Linked DNA regions of Homo sapiens: region 1 is linked to region 2. Evidence: fine-mapped expression QTL. A gene starts in region 2. The other region holds a variant in brackets. All regions are shown on one strand. Distances are between the middles of the regions.

The links.
Region 1: its variant is fine-mapped to the expression of EIF2AK2 in whole blood (TOPMed, PIP 0.94).

The regions. Positions count from the first base shown.
Region 1 is chr2:37,116,044-37,124,415 of GRCh38, forward strand. It overlaps EIF2AK2 (eukaryotic translation initiation factor 2 alpha kinase 2), which reads right to left. Exons shown (of 17, transcript NM_001135651.3): 12 at 6,463-6,621; 13 at 3,916-4,096. Among named protein-coding and RNA genes, the nearest start is that of GPATCH11, 36 kb to the left of the region's middle. The variant T/C (reference allele first, on the strand shown) is at 4,343.
Region 2 is chr2:37,152,439-37,160,810 of GRCh38, forward strand. EIF2AK2 (eukaryotic translation initiation factor 2 alpha kinase 2) reads right to left here and starts at 4,542. Exons shown (of 17, transcript NM_001135651.3): 1 at 4,470-4,542. RefSeq lists silencers at 4,332-4,451, 4,652-4,841 and an enhancer at 4,472-4,601.

The DNA of each region.
Region 1 (8,372 bases), 36 kb before region 2:
GTGCCACAACGCTTGGCTAATTTTTTTGTATTTTTAGTAGAGACAGATTTTCACCATGTTGGCCAGATTGGTCTCAAACTCCTGACCTCAAGCAATCTGCTCACCTCAGCCTCCCAAAGTGCTGAGGTTACAGGCATGAGCCACCACGCCCAGCCCATAGGAGGTATTGACCAATATTATTTTTGTTTGTTTTTGAGACAGTGTCTCATTTTGTTATCCAGGATGGATTTCAGTGGCATGATCATGGCTCACTGCAGCCTTGACTTCCTCAGCTCAAGCGATCCTCCCACCTCAGCCTCCCAAGTAGCTGGGACCACAGGCCACCACACCCAGCTCTACTGACCAATATTCTAAAGACCACAAAAACAGGAAGGTAGTTGATGAGAAAATTAATATTTTGCTATTTTTGAAAAGGCTGGACTTTTAATACAATCTTAGGCTAAACACACAGACTCTACGGGATAACACACTTATGAGAGGGCCTACCTAGTAAGGACCTAAGAGGGAAGAGACCATAAGCCCAGGGAAGGCTGAAGGAGGAGCTTCCGAGAAGCCAGCTTGAGATGACGGCTCATACAGCAATTAGCAGTTGGATTAGAATTCAATTAACAGTCAGATTGGAGCCTAACACCAGTAATACAGATGGAAAGCTGTAGACAGATGTGGAGTGGATGTGGAGAGAAAACATTCCTATGCTATGTTCAAGTTGCAATGTGTAGGAATATGTCAGGATTGCAAGTGAAACTGCTAGTCCCACATAAGGCTATCACCTGACTCTAAGAAACAGAAAATTGAATTTGTGAAGCCGTGTAAATATCTAAGCTGGATGAGGCTATCTAGTGAAAATATCAGATCACTTTTTGTAGTTCATTCAAAAGAAAAAGTGGGCAGGGCGTGGTGAGTCACACCTGTAATCCCAGCACTTTGGGAGGCTGAAGCGGGCAGACAGCGTGGGCCCATCAGTCCAAGGCCAACCTTGCCAACATGGTGAAACCCTGTCTCTACTAAAAATACAAAAAATTATCTGGGCATCATGGCAGGCGCCTGTAATCCCAGATACTCGAGAGGCTGACGCAGGAGAATCTCGTGAACCCAGGAGTCAGAGGCTGCAGTGAGCCGAGATCACTCCACTGCACTCCAGCCTGGGCAACAGAGGAGACTCTGTCTCAAAAAAAAAAAAAAAAGAAAAAAGAAAAAAAGAAAAGAAAAAGAAGCTGGGTATGGTGGCTCATGCCTGTAATCCCAACACTTTGGGAAGCCAAGGTCGGCAGATCACTTGAGCTCAGGAGTTCGAGACCAACCAGGGCAACATGGCAAAATCCTGTCTCCACAAAATGTCAAAAATTAGCCTGCCTTGGTAGCCTGCACCTGTAGTCCCAGCTATGTGGGGGGCCGAGGTGGGAGGATTGCTTGAGCCTAGGAGGTCCAGGCTGCAGTGAGCTGAGATCATACAACTGCACTCCAGCCTGGGCAACAGAGTGAGACCTTGTAAAACACAAAAGAAATAAAAACAATAATGCCACATTTTGTCTAATCAGTTATAATATGATTAGACAAAATATAGGGCTGTAGATCATATAAAAGGGATGCAAACTTCACCTAGGAGGCACAGGAACAGGACTGATGCTCAGGCTGAGGATGACCAGAGCCTGGGCTTTAGGAGACTGAACATTTTAGAGAGAAGCAGCCTTGCACAAGAAGCCCTCACTCCAGAAACCCCTATGTCCCTTCCCAGCGCCTTTGGTCTAGTTCCTAAGATTCCAACAGAAAGTGGTAAACACTTGGAGACTTTTGTAAGAGGGGCTGTGTTAGGTAAAGACCATTCTCTGGCAAAACCACCTACAGCTGCTATTTTGCAAAACACAACCCCAAAATTGTACACCTTCATTGTATCTTTTCTTAGAGGAGAGAAATCAACAACTGTAGTAGTGAGAGCCTGAAAAGTTATAGAAGATGAAAGAAGTCTCAGTATCAAAGCTTGAGGCCGGGTGCAGTGGAGCACACCTGGAATGCCAGCACTTTGGGAGGCTGAGGCAGGAGGATCACTTTGAGTCTAAAAGTTTGAGACCAGCCTCGGAAACATGGTGAGACCCTGTCTCTACAAAAAAAAAACACACAAAAATGGCCAGGTGTGGTGGTGTACACCTGTGGTCCCAGCTATACGGGAGGCTGAGGTGGGAGGACTGCTTGAGCCCAGGAGGTCAAGGCTGTAATGAGCCGTGATTGTGCCACTGCACTCCAGCCTGGGCAAAAGAGCAAGACCTTGTCTCAAAAAAAAATAAAAATTAAAAATTTAAGAAGAATAATAAAGTCTGACCCTTGAGCAACTGCAGCCAGAGTAAAAATTCTCTGCAAATAGACACAAGAAAAGATCAGTCCATGACACAGGGCACACACGGTGTGGGGCATAGTTGGCAGGTAAGTGGGTAGGCACCAGTCAGAATTTTGCTAATTCATTCTGAGGACTAGGAGCTTAATGCCTACACTTCTGCATTTATTTGCAAATTATTTTATATAGAAATAATTGTGCTTATTTGTTATTTAACTATATGTATGATTTATCCCAAAGTGAAAGCATAACCAACTCTACATTTATCCTTTTGAAATAGTTCTGACAATGTTCCACCTTCAAAGAACAACTTCAGATATTGTAGAAGAGACATATTGGAACCAGACAGACTCAAAACACCAATGCATCAGACATCCAGCCCCTGGGCAGACCACGGAAGCAATACCTTTTAAGGGCTACTCATTCCTCTCTGAGCCCAATAAACAACTGTGTATATGGGAACTTATTTCTCTCAAGGAATTTTTTTGTTTCATTCCTTATTCCTTGCTGTTTTAGAGGGGTGGGATAAGCAGATAGCCACATAAATAAGGTACTTCTGCCTAGAACAGAAAAAGGCAGTTCCAGAGTGATCAGGAAAGGCTCAGTAAAGGAATTACAACCAAAGGGGGCAGGCAGAAGAGTGTCCCATGAGAGAGAAGAACATGAGCAAAGGTCCAGGGACAGGATTCAGGACGGCCAGCTTGTGACAGGCTTAGGCAAGTCACAGGGAATAGGGAATGGAGGAAAGGCTGTGAAGGGCTATTCTGTCTCTCACCTTCTGTCATTTTAATGAGAAGTAAAAAATAGGGAAACTCCTTGTCCGGACCATAAAAGCCAGAGGAAAATGAAAATACTAAGGGATGATACACTTTCCCAGTCCGGGATTACCGCAATTTTCCAATCATGGGGTTGAAATGCTTAACCAAGACAGTATTAGACTCTGGACCCAGTAGCTGTGACAGCCCTCGCGAGTAATGACTGAGAGATTAGGGAACCATATTCCTAAAGCAACAGTCAACAGAGTCCCCTCTGCCTCTCAAATAAAGCTGAGTCACTTAGAGGAGGCAGGAGGAACAGGGGCAGAGCAGCCAGTTGGCTGTGCCAGTCACAGTAATTATTTGCATGGAAATGTTCAGATACCATTTTCTCATAACTATCAATCAACCACTATTCTAAAACTAGAGAAAAAAATATATATCTATCTATCTTATTTTATATATATATATAATTTTTTTTTTTGAGACAAGTCTCACTCTTCACCTAGGCTGGAGTGCAGTGGCACAATCTTGGCTCACTGCAACCTCCACCTCCCAGGTTCAAGCGAATCTCCTGCCTCAGCCTCCCGAGTAGCTGGGATTACAGGCGCACGCCACCATGCCCAGCTAATTTTTGTATTTTTAGTAGAGACACGGTTTCACCATGTTGGCCAGACTGGTTTCGAACTCATGACCTCAGATGATCTGCCTGCCTCAGCCTCCCAAAGTGTTGAGATTATAGGCGTGAGCCACTGTGCCCAGCTGAGAAGATATATTTTAAAATTACTATATTATATATATATCAATTAATAAAGTACATTTTCCACTTACCTTAAGATCTCTATGAATTAATTTTTTTGAATGTATATAATCCACCCCTTTTGTTATTTGTTCAAAGAGTTCCAAAGCCAAAACTTTGTCTAGTTTCTCGCCTCTTCTTTTTTCAATCCATTGTTCCAAGGTCCCTTTATCACAGAATTCCATTTGGATGAAAAGGCACTTAGTCTTTGACCTGGGTATAAAATTCACAGTATGTTAAAAGTAACAATAAATATAAATTTATAAAAAATTTTTTATAACTTTTTAAAGTTTTTCATAACTTTTTAAAAGCTTATACCTTATCTTCTTAAGAACCCCAAAAACACTTTGGGAGGCCGAGGCGGGCGGATCACGAGGTCAGGAGATCGAGACCACGGTGAAACCCCGTCTCTACTAAAAATACAAAAAATTAGCCAGGCGTGGTGGCGGGCGCCTGTAG[T/C]CCCAGCTACTCCGGGGAGGCTGAGGCAAGAGAATGGCGTGAACCCGGTAGGCGGAGCTTGCAGTGAGCCGAGATCACGCCACTGCACTCCAGCCTGGGTGACAGAGCGAGATTCCGTCTCACAAAAAAAAAAAAAAAAAGAAAAAAAAAGAACCCCAAAACATGTCACAAAATAGAAATCTAAATATAATAAACAAATTTGAATCAAAATATAATAGGCCATTTTTTATTTCAATCATAAGTTCCCGGATGTCCAGAGCTTTATTTGTTTAGCTAATTTATAAAATATGAGCTGGGCTGGGCACGGTGGCTCACGCCTATAATCCTAGCACCTTGGGAGGCCGAGACTGGCGGATTGCTTGAGCTCAGGAGTTTGAGACCAGCCTGGGCAGCATGGCGAAACCCCATCTCTACTAAAAACACAAAAATTAGCTGGGTGTGGTGGCGCGGCACCTGTAGTCTCAGCTACTCGGGAGGATGAGGCACGAGAATCATTTGAACCCAGAAGGCAGAGATTGCAGTAAGCTGAGATCACGCCATTGTGCTCCCGCATGAGCGATAGAGTAAGACTCTGTCTCAAAAAAAAAAAAAGAAGAGGCCGGGCGCGGTGGCTCACGCATGTAATCCCAGCACTTTGGGAGGCCGAGGCGGGTGGATCACGAGGTCAGGAGATCAAGACCATCCTGGCTAACACGGTGAAATCCCGTCTCTACTAAAAATACAAAAAATTAGCCGGGCGTGGTGGCGGGCGCCTGTAGTCCCAGCTACTCAGGAGACTGAGGCAGGAGAATACTGTGAATCCGGGAGGCAGAGCTTGCAGTGAGCCAAGATTGCACCACTGCACTCCAGCCTGTGCGACAGTGCGAGACACCGTCTCAAAAAAAAAAAAAAAAAAAAAAACGAGAAGAAAAAAAAAATGAGCCACCCATTCTTCATTGCTGAAGATCTGCAATCACCATTGCTAACAGATAGAAATAGGAACATGAATACAATGCAGGAAACTAAATTTCATTATTATATAAAGTAACTTTGAAACCTTTTAATTCACCATTGATCTACTAAGCATGAAAGGCACCTAGAGATGAGAAAATCAGTTAGACACTATATCCTTGCCGTCACGGGGATAATAGTCTAATAGGAGAGAGTAAAGGGAAAGCAAACCTAAAACAATAGGGAAGGTACTCTAAGAGAAGTGCCAACAAATTACTAAGATACATAAATTGGAGGCTTGATTTTTTTTTTTTTTTTTTTTGCTAACCACGTTTTATTTTTTTTCTGAATTAAGTTAGCCTCAATATTCATTTATATTCTTTGTATATATGTCAGCTTGAAAACAGGAAGAGGTAGCCAAGAATTTGCTGAAAGCTGAAGTCCTGTATGCTGACGGTCAATAACTCCTGAACTGATGATAATGTTCTCACTTACACGACATGGAGATGGAGGTGGGGCAGGAGAAAATGAATGAATGGGACCCCATTGGCCTCAGGATTTTAGTGAGAGGACTGTCCCCATAATAGGTTGGGTGACTTTCAAAGACAGATGCCAGCTCTTTAGGATCTCCAGTTGTTTGGCAATGGCTTAACTGACATAAAACATGAGGGTGCCCCCATCTCAGCTTGTGGTCTTAAAAATATTTTCACTCCCCACCACCCCAGCATAAGTGGTATAGTTACATTCCAAAGAGACCCTCTGACGGCACCACACCAATCACAGCCTAAGAGAGGGACAGAAAAGTGTTGGTAGCTGAGGAGGGAGCCCCCAGATGCAGCATCTATATGTTAAAACTCTCTTCACAAGACTACACTTAAACAGCCTGCGCTGAAGCCGGCACGTGAACAAGGCTCTCCATGAAACAATGGAGTCAGGAAAGCTGAACCTGAGATTTTGCAGACAGCTGAGGATGTAACAGAGGGTTGTGAGAGCAAGTCTGCAGCAAGAGGAGGAGCAAGGAAGAGATTTTCACTTTCTCCTTACCTTCGGAATGGAGAGATAACAGTGTCTCTCAGAGGGAATTGTGATAATTAATCGTGATGATTAATAGCCTTATCCAGTGGCCCATACATAGTAAATAACAATTTCCTTCCATCCTATTATGGCTATGAGAATTTATTTTTAGTTACCTTGAACTATTTTTGCTGTTCTCAGGATCATAATCACTGCTCTCAAGAGAATCATCACTGGTCTCAGGATCATAATCAAATCCATCCCAACAGCCATTGTAGTGAACAATATTTACATGATCAAGTTTTGCCAATGCTTTTACTTCACGCTCCGCCTTCCTAGTTAAAAGGAACAGGGAACATGGCAGTGTCAGTGTACATCCCTCATAACAACCACAAAACACCTCATGTAATAGACAACTGTCTACATTCCCTTATTAAACCATTGCTGTGGTTCTCACATAGTTTTAGAATGGAAGCCAGGACATTCAAAAGGAAAAAGTGAACATACTGAAAAAAAACATAGCAGTTCTCACTCTCAAGATAAAATAAAAGGCAGTGGCCGGGCGCGGTGGCTCAGGCCTGTAATCCCAGCACTTTGGGAGGCGAAGGTGGGCGGATCACGAGGTCAGGAGTTCAAGACCAGCCTGACCAACATGGTGAAACCCCATCTCTACTAAAAATACAAAAAATTTAGCTGGGCACAGTGGCGCATGTCTGTAATCCCAGCTACTTGGGAGGCTGAGGCAGGAGAATCGCTTGAATCCAGGAGGCGGAGGTTGCAGTGAGCCAAGATTGCACCACTGCACTCCAGCCTGGGCAAAAGAGCAAGACTCTGTCTCAAAAAATAAATAAATAAAAGGCAGCGACTTAATGCCAAGCATCAGACAATTTAAAAATCATCTGTAGTACTCTTGAAATGCCAGTGATGTCATTTTAATTAATTTATTTATTTTATTGAGACAGAGTCTTGCTCTGTCACCCAGGTTGGAGTGCAGTGGCACAATCTTGGCTCATTGCAGCCTCAACCTTCTAGCCTCAAACAATTCTCCCACCTCAGTCTCCTGAGTAGCTGGGACCACAGGAGCACACCACCACACCCATCTAATTTTTTCTATTTTCTGTAGAGATGGGGTTTTGCCACGCTGCCCATGCTGGTCTCAAACTCCTGGGATCTAGCAATCCACCTGCCTCAGCCTCCCAAAGTGCTGGGATTGCAAGCATGAGCCAATGGACCCAGCCAGTGCAATTTTTCATAGCTAAATCATACATTATGTTTTGCTTAGATTTGTGTTAAAATCTTTGTATTTCACAAGCAAACCACATTTAGGCAGCAAGGCTAGGTAACCCAGGCAGTGTGAAGTACCTAATTCAGGATTTTCAATGTGTGGCAAATATACACAAAGAGGATAACTTATGCAGAGAAGGTGAAATGGTGGAAGGCTTTACAGGGATGTGTTGCCAAGACCTAAGAAAATTCCATGCTAAGTGCAGTAAATAAATTGGAGATTTCAAAGATGAGGAAGAATAATCATTTTACAATTTTATTTTTTAATGCAAGAAGTTTTAAAGTATATGACACAAATTTGCAAAAATAAAAAAAATTACTGATACTTTGACAATCCTAAAATAATGTTATTTTAGATTCTTCCTTTTTTTTTTGAGACAGGGTCTCACTCTGTCACCCAGGCTGGAGTGCAGTGGCAATGTTGGCTCACTGCAACCTCCACCCCTAGGGCTCAAGCGATCCTCCTACCTCAGCCTCCCTAGTAGCTAGGACCACAGGCACACACCACCACACTTGGCTAGTTTTTATATTTTTTGTAGAGACAGGGTTTCTCCATGTTGCCCAGGTTGGTCTCGCACTCCTGACCTCAAGTGATCCACCAGCCTTGGCCTCTCAAAGTGGTAGGATTACAGGCCTGAGCCACTGCACCCAGCCAGTCATTTTTTTTGAGAAGAGTCTTGCTTTGTCGCCCAGGCTGGAGTGCAATGGCGCGATCTTGGCTCACTGCAACCTCCGCCTCCTGGGTTCAAGCGATTCTCCTGCCTCAGCCTCCCAAGTAGCTGGGACTACAGGCGTACGCTGC
Region 2 (8,372 bases):
ACCACCACGCCCAGCTAATTTTTGTATTTTTGAGGTTTCCCGGTGTTGGCCAGGCTGGTCTCCAACTCCTGAACTCCAGTGATCCACCAGCCTCAGCCTCCCAAAGTGCTGGGATTACAGGTGTGGGCCACCACGCCTGGCCGGGCCACTCTTTTTAACACACCTTAATCTTTGTAGCTCTAAATGCTGGCATGGCCCAACAATCCTCTTCTCTTCACTCTATACTTTCTCCTTAAGGTGATTTCTTTCACGTCCATGATTTCAGTGATCATCTATACGCCATTACCTCTAAAGTTTACATATTCCTTATGAACCGCTCTGAGTTTCAGATCTCTCTATCCAAATTCTCCACTTGAACATCTTGAACGAACTTTAAACTCAAAATATCCTGTACTGCATGTATGATCTTCTCCCAAGCTGGTTTGAAGTTTCCTTTCACAGGAAATGAGTCCACCATCTATCCAAGTCTGAAAGCCATCAATCTGGGAGGCATCCTTGACATTTCCTCTCCCTGCCTTCTAATCTATAACTAAGTCCTGTCACCAAAATCTTTCTACTTCTCAAAGATGTCTACACTTACCATCCTAGTTCAAGCCAACACCACCTCATTCCTGGATTGCTGTGAGAATCTCAGAACCAGTTCCGACAGCTACTTCAATTCCTTCTCTACCCTGCAACCATTGTGATTTTTTTTTTTATGTTTTAAAATTGTGATAAAATACACATAACATGAAATGTACTATTTTTCAATGTATTAATTCCCTGCCTTTAAGTACATTCACAATGTTGTGTAGCCGCCACCACATCCACATCCACAACTCTTAATCTTTCCAAACAGAAAGTGTGTACCCATTAAACAGTAACTCCCCATTTCCCAGTCCTTTCAGTCTCTGCTAATCTTTTTTTTTTTTTTTTTTTTTGAGACAGGGTCTCGCTCTGTTGCCCAGGCTGGAGTGCAGTGGTGTGATCACAGCTTACTGCAGCCTTGAACTCTGGGCTCAAGCGATCCTCCCACCTCAGCCTCCCGAGTAGCTGGGACCATAGGCGTGGGCATGCCTGGTTAATTTTTTATATTTTCTAATCTCTCTTCTGTCTCTGTAAATTTGCCTGTTCTAGGTACCTCATATAAGTGGAATCAAACAGTATTTGTCCTTTTGTGTCTGGTTATTTCACTTAGCAAAATGTCTTCAAGGTTCATCTATGTTGTAGCATATGTCAGAATTCCTTTCCTTTTTAAGGCTGAATAATATTCCGTTGTGTATATATACCATATTTTGTTCATGCATTCATTTATGAATGGACACTGGTTATTTCAACCTTTTGGCCATCTTGAATCATGCTGCTGTGAACACTGGTATACATATATCTGTTTAAGTCCCTACTTCTGAATATTTGTGGTATATAAGTGGAATTGAATCACATGATAATTCTGTTTAACTTTGTGATGAATCACCAAATTGTTTTCCACAGTGGTTACACCCATGTTACATTTCCACCAGCAATGCACGAGGGTTCTAATTTCTCCACATCCTCACCATCACTTGTTATTATCTGTTTTCTTTTTTAATACAGCCACATCATGATCTTTTTAAAACATCAATTCAGTGGCCAGGCGCGGTGGCTCACACCTGTAATCCCAGCACTTTGGGAGGCCAAGGCGGGCAGATCACCTGAGGTCGGGACTTCAAGACCAGCCTGACCAACATGGAGAAACCCCATCTCTACTAAAAATACAAAATTAGCCGGGGTGGTGGCACATGCCTGTAATCCCAGCTACTCGGGATGCTGAGGAAGGAGAATCGCTTGAACCCAGGAGGTGGAGGTTGCGGTGAGCTGAGATCGTGCCATTGCACTCCAGCCTGGGCAACAAGAGCGAAACTCCGTCTCAAAAAAAAAAACAAAAACAAAACAAACAAACAAAAAAACATCAATTCAATCATGCAGTCTCCACAAGCCACTGAAATTGTTTTTGTCGAGGTTACCAATGGCTTCCCTATCACTAAATCCAGTAGTCAGTTCTTAGTCCTTCTCTACTTGACTTACAACCAGCATTTGATGGGGTTGCGCATCCTCTTCGCCCTCCTCTCCCTGTCTTAGCTTGGACTTTTAAGACACCCACTCTCCTAGTTTTCTTCTTTTGAGACAGAGTTTCGCTCTTGTTGCCCAGGCTGGAGTGTGATGGTGGCATCTCGGCTCGCTGCAACCTCTGCCTCCCGGGTTCAAGCGATTCTCCTGCCTCAGCATTCCGAGTAGCTGGGATTACAGGCGCCCACCACCACGCCCGGCTAATTTTTTATATTTTTAGTAGAGACGGGGTTTCCCCATGTTGGCCAGGCTGGTCTCAAACTCCTGACCTCAGGTGATCCACCCACCTTGGCCTCCCAAAGTGCTGCGATTACAGGCATGAGCCATGGCACCTGGGCCTGGTTTTCTTCTGTTCTGACAAGCTACTCCTTTTCTGTCTCCTTTCCTGGTTCATCTTCAACTTCTTTTCTTCTATTTTTTTTTTTTTAACCTTTTCTATGGTTCTAACTTCCTCTTTTCTAGATATTCTAGCATCACTGGGCCCGGTCCTTAGACTTGCTCTTTTCTACTTGGACTCACTCCCCTGGTGATCACCTCCAGGTTTGTGGCTTTAAATTCCACGGACACAATGATGGTTCTCAAAAGCACGCTTCCACCATGGACTCTCTCCTGAACTCCCAACTGCCTCTGTCCAACCTGCTCCCTCCTAAAATGCCCTTGACTCTATTCCTTCTGCTGTCTTGGCCTGGTCAATTTCTACTTCCTACAGATTTCAGCTCAAAATCCCAGACACTCCTTCACAGGCTCTTCCACAGTGCTCATCCCCTTTATTAAAATTGCTTATTTAACTATTTTCCAAAATAGAGCATGAATTACTACAGGTAAGGGACCAGGCTCAATAATGAATGAGTGAGTACCAAAATATCTCCAGATACCCCATCCAGGACTTGTCACCTGCTTTTCTCTACATTTATAGTGCAATATCTGCATTCTCTCTGTACCCACCAATATCCACTCATCTATCAGGATCAACACAGCCTTCTTTGATGCTGGAGGGTCAGCTAGTATGGGCTTGCCACTCCACCTTGCCCAACCTTCAACACAGCCCTGACTGCTTTTTAAACTAATTAGTGAGCTCTTTGGGGAGCAGATTCTACATCTTATTCACTCATCTGGAAGAAACCTCCATCATAATCACTAAAAAATAATATTTGTCCATCTTACTAATGCCCAGAAATTATTTTGGCTATGCCTCCACTTCCTTTCCAGCAGACTACATACAGCCTGGCCAACACGGTGAAACCCTGTCTCTACTAAAAATAAAAAAATTAGTTGGCTGTGCTGGCGGGCACCTGTAGTCCCAGCTACCTGGGAGGCTGAGGAAGGAAAATCGCTTGAACCTGAGAGGCAGAGGTTGCAGTGAGCCCAGATCGTGCCACTGCATTCCAGCCTGGCGACAGAGTGAGAATCTGTCTCAAAAAAAAAAAAAAAGAAAAGAAAAGAAAGAAAATGTCACCAGGTGATAACTACTATGTTGACAACCGAAGTAGTGGAAGGGGGAACAGCAAGGGCAGAGCGGGGTTTCTTGTATAGGCAGGTTGTTTGAGGAAGGCTGCTCTGATAAGCTGGCATGGGAAGCAGTGCAGGATAAGGGAGGGATTTCCCCATGCAGTTATCTGGGGAAGAAGCTTTCCAGAAAGAAGAAACAAGCAGTGCAAAGGCCTAGAGGCTGGAGGATGCTTGGCTGTGCACCAGGAACAGCAAGGAAGCCAGCGTGGCCGGAGTAGGGGGTGCGAGGGGCCTTGCCTGTGAGCCTTAATAAATGTTTATAGGATTCTGATGAGACAGGAAAGCTACGGGGAAGGTCGGAGCAGGGGAGAGTCTGGTTCTTACTTAAAGGAACATTCCAGATGCTGAGGTGTGGAGAAGAGGTAGGGGGTGGAGGTTCAGGGGTGAGGATACGGAGTGGGAACAGGAACTGCGGCCAGGCAATTGGGAAACTACTGCAACTCTCCACGGAAGAGATTTTTAGCCAAAGATTGTTCAGCCAGTCTATGAGTATTTCAGGCCTCCGTATTTTCCATGTGTCAAGCCACTAGGCCTATTCGTCTTCCACTAGACCCCGCCCCACAACTGCTGCCTGGGAAATATTTGTTACTTGCACTGATAAAAATTCTTCACGGGAAGGAAATGGCTTTCAGTCCCCACCCCGCTCCACGATCCTTTCCCTGGATTTGGGGAGGGCCCCACACCCGGGCTGCGGACCTGGGCCTGCTCTCCCAGTGCTGACCCAGCCGGGGCCAGGGGCTTCGGATCAGCGTCCGCGTCCTGAGCTGGGGACGCAGGATTGGCGAGTCCCGCCCCGGCTGGGCCTGCAGCCCCTCGTACGTGGCCCCCCGGCCCCCGCTCCCCGCGCTCCCTCGGCTGCCCCCTGCCCTGCTCACCTGCGCCGCCGCCGCCGCCGCCGCCGCCGCCGGCCGGAGACCCGCGGCTTCGGGAGAGCTGGTTCTCAGTTTCGTTTTCCCCTTGGACTCCGCCTTCCCTGCAGCCGCCCGGCCCCCTCTCGCACAAGCCCTCGTCTGCTACGGGATTGGGGTAAATTGGCGCTGGATCCAGAGTGCGCGCGAGAGGCACTGGCGGGCGGGCTTGGCACCGGCGGGCGGGCTTGGCACCGGCAGGCGGGCTTGGCACCCACGTGCTGCCCCTGCACGGCCAGGACCCTGCACCCCCATCCCCCGCCCCCGGGGCTCCTAGGGTTCTCCGCTGGCCTAGTCCGCTGGCCGCACTAGGTTCTCGAATCAAGGGTTCCACTTACTCTCAACACAAATATTTGGGGTGGGGTTGGGAAGATGGATCTTACCAGCTCCATTCTACAATAGAGGAAACTGAGTAAATGAACTCACCCAGGGGTCCTGCCGCTCGTAAGTGGCAAAGCCAGGATTCAGTTCAAGTCGGGGCCTGTAAACACCAAAGCACTCTTTCCCTCTTGCCACACCGCGGCCCCCTCACCTTTACAAGCCTGGGGATCAGAGGCCTGGGGGCGTAATCTCCTTCACTCCGCTCCCACCCATCCATTCATTCATGAGCAGACACTTGCCAGCCGCTGTAAAAGCACCTGTGGGCCAGTCCTGCTGCTAAATAGAGACACCTGCTTCCTACAGTACCCCAGGGAGCTTCCTACCATAGTCCAACACCAGTAGTCCTCGATTTATAGAAATTCTACTCACCTGATGGACTGCGACACACTCCCAGAGTCACACAGAGTTCCAGAGTTCATTGGCACAGTGACTAATGAGTATTGAGGCACAGAGAATTTGGATTAACACAGGTAGTAAGCAGCGGAGTTAGAATTATAACCAGGAGTTTGTACTCTCAGTATCTTAGCTGGGATAAGAGAGGAAGGTGGTCCAAAGACAGACCTCAAATATACATTAAATATTATGCCTAGGCCGGCGCGGTGGCTCATGCCTGTAATCCCAGAAATTTGGGAGGCTGAGACGGGCGGATCACCTGAGGTCAGGAGTTCAGGACCAGCCTGGCCAACATGGCAAAACCCCGTCTCTACTAAAAAACACAAAAATTAGCTGGGCGTGGTGGCAGGCACCTGTAATCCCAGCTACTCCAGAGGCTGAGGCAGGGAGAATTGCTTGAACCTGGGAGGCAGAGATTGTAGTGAGCTGAGATCATGCCACTACACTCCAGCCTGGGTGACAGAGTGGGACTCCAATTCAAAAAAAAAAAAAAAAAATTACACCTAGGCAGGCATCCTCTCCAGCCTCCCTTCTCCATCCCCCAACAACCCCACATTGCAGGGTATCAACAACTAAAATCTACACTTTCCTTGTAGCTCTGGTCCTGGGCATAGCTTAAGTCCCCTATATGTAAAGCACTGGCGGGAGGTTTAGAAGGTAGACATGAGGCAGAGCCATCTTTTTGTGGCATTTCCAGGTGACAAGAAAACTCTGACAGTGCTGTGTGTCCATTTGTCAGCTTTGTGGGTGTGGGATGGCTGTGGCAGCAGCAATGGCAGTAGCAAGGACAAGTTTTTCTGACTTTTTGAGCCCCTGAACTGCCCAAGAGAGCTTAAAGAATGAAAAATGGCAAGCTTAAGCATGATCAGAGGACACACGCTTTTATGACTGTACCAGAAAACCCTCCTATTTCAGGGAGCCTCAGGGGTGATGTAAAAATCTGCCTTCTCTGCTGGGGAAAGATTTGGAAGGAATGATATCAGAGGGTTGGTGATGAGGTCCAGGGGAATGATATGATATGGGTGAACCTCTTGGAATGGGTAAAGTGTGAGCATATTGGACTCCCTGAGGAGCCCAATTCCCTACTGTCTGGGCTCTCAGCTGCAAAGCTTGGTGCTGCAGGCACCAGAATTACAATATAATTGTTTTGAGACAGAGTCTTGCTGTGTTGCCGAGGCTGGAGTGCAGTGGCACAATCTTGGCTCACTACAACCTCTGGCTCCCGGGCTCAAGCAATTTCCCTGCCTCAGCCTGCCAAGTAACTGGGATTACAGGCGTGTGCCACCGCACCTAGCTAATTTTTGTATTTTTAGTAGAGAAGGGGTTTCACCATATTGGCCAGCCTGGTTTGGAACTCCTAACCTCAAGTGATTCCCCCACCTCGGCCTTCCAAAGTACTGAGATTACAGGCGTGATCCACCGCGCCCAGCCTAGAATTACAACAAAAATTTTCATTTGCAGCCTCATCAGGTCTCTTCTGTGAACACTGAGGGCATTGATTGTGAAAGAAAGAAGCCCTGGGAATTTGGGTGGATTTGAATGAATCCAAGTGCCACTGCCCTCCTAAATTCTGCTGTGTCTCCACAGGCTTCCCACCATTGTCTGATAAGGCTGGTACAGCCTACATTAAAAAGCATGAAACAGTCACCCTGCAAGGAGGTGCTGATTCTCCAAATATCCTATCTCTACCTGTGCCTTCACTCCTAGAACTAGAATCAGATGCTAATGCGCCCCAAGAGGATATGGACAAGATCTGATGGAGGGGTGATGCTTTACACAACAAAAGAGCAACAGAAAGCAAGAAATAGACATGGCAATGAGTCTAAAGATGACGTGAAGAAAGCTGAAAGTTGAGGCTGAGCGCGGTGGCTCATGCTTGTAATCCCAGCACTTTGGGAGGCCGAGGTGGGCGGATCATGAGGTCAGGAGATTGAGACCATCCTGGCCAACATGGTGAAACCACGTCTCTACTAAAAATACAAAAATTAGCTGGGCGTGGTGGCATGTGCCTGTAATCCCAGCTACTTGGGAGGCTGAGGCAGGAGAATCGCTTGAACCAGGGAGTCGGGGTTGCAATGAGCCAAGATCGTGCCACTGCACTCCAGCCTGGCAACAGAGCAAGAAAAAAAAAAAAAAAAGAAAGAAAGTTGATGTACTGCCTCTAGCAGTGGGAGCGCTAAGCCAGTTTGCCCAGTTGGTTTACTATAATATCAGCTCAGTGGCAGCTCACACTAAATGTAAATGTAATGCCAAGTAATGCAGATGAAGAAATCAAAAATACTTAGGGAGTCAGGAATATTGGAGTAGATTCATCTTATGCAACCTAGTCACTTACTTCCTAACCATGGACCCCAAGAAGATCCAAAGTCCCCTCCTTCAGTGGCTTATACAGAGCCAGTGGCTGGCAATGCAGCTGATGTTCAGAGAGTTGGAAGGAATGATATCAGAGGGCTGATGATGAGGTCTAGGGAAATGATGTGCTTGAACCACTTCGAATGGGCAGAGTGTGCATATTGGGCTCCCTTTTGAATGTTCACCAAAGGCAACCACTTCTAAAGAGGCTTTTGAGAAGCAGTTGAGCAAGAAGACTTCTGTTAGCCTTTTCCCCAGCTATCCCTGTGCTTGTTTCAACAAATAAAGAGGCTGTGACAGCAGGAATGGAGGATATGTGTGAGTTTATCCACATGGGCTTCTCAGGCCTTACTACGTAACTCTTTGTGAATATCAGTATGGTTATTGACCTATAGTCAATCCCATAAGTCTATCTCTTTTAATACAGTGACTTTTAGATCAAAATGTGTAATGCTAAAGCAACGAATCAGACACAGATAGAAGAATCGTATGTATCAATTATTCTTAATTCTCTTTTTACTAGCAGAGGAAAAATAATAACTGTTATTCCTGCTTTTGGAAATTGTAGAGTGGTCCATATTTATGTTGTACCATATCTCTTGTGGCTCTTTTCCTCAGATGTTTCTGCTTTAGTAATTTGTCTTGCTTACTTATAAACTCTTCTTGTCAATAGTCCCCACATGCACATTATTATAAAATCATCGCTATGGTCTGAATGTTTGTGTCCTCCCTAAAACTCATAAG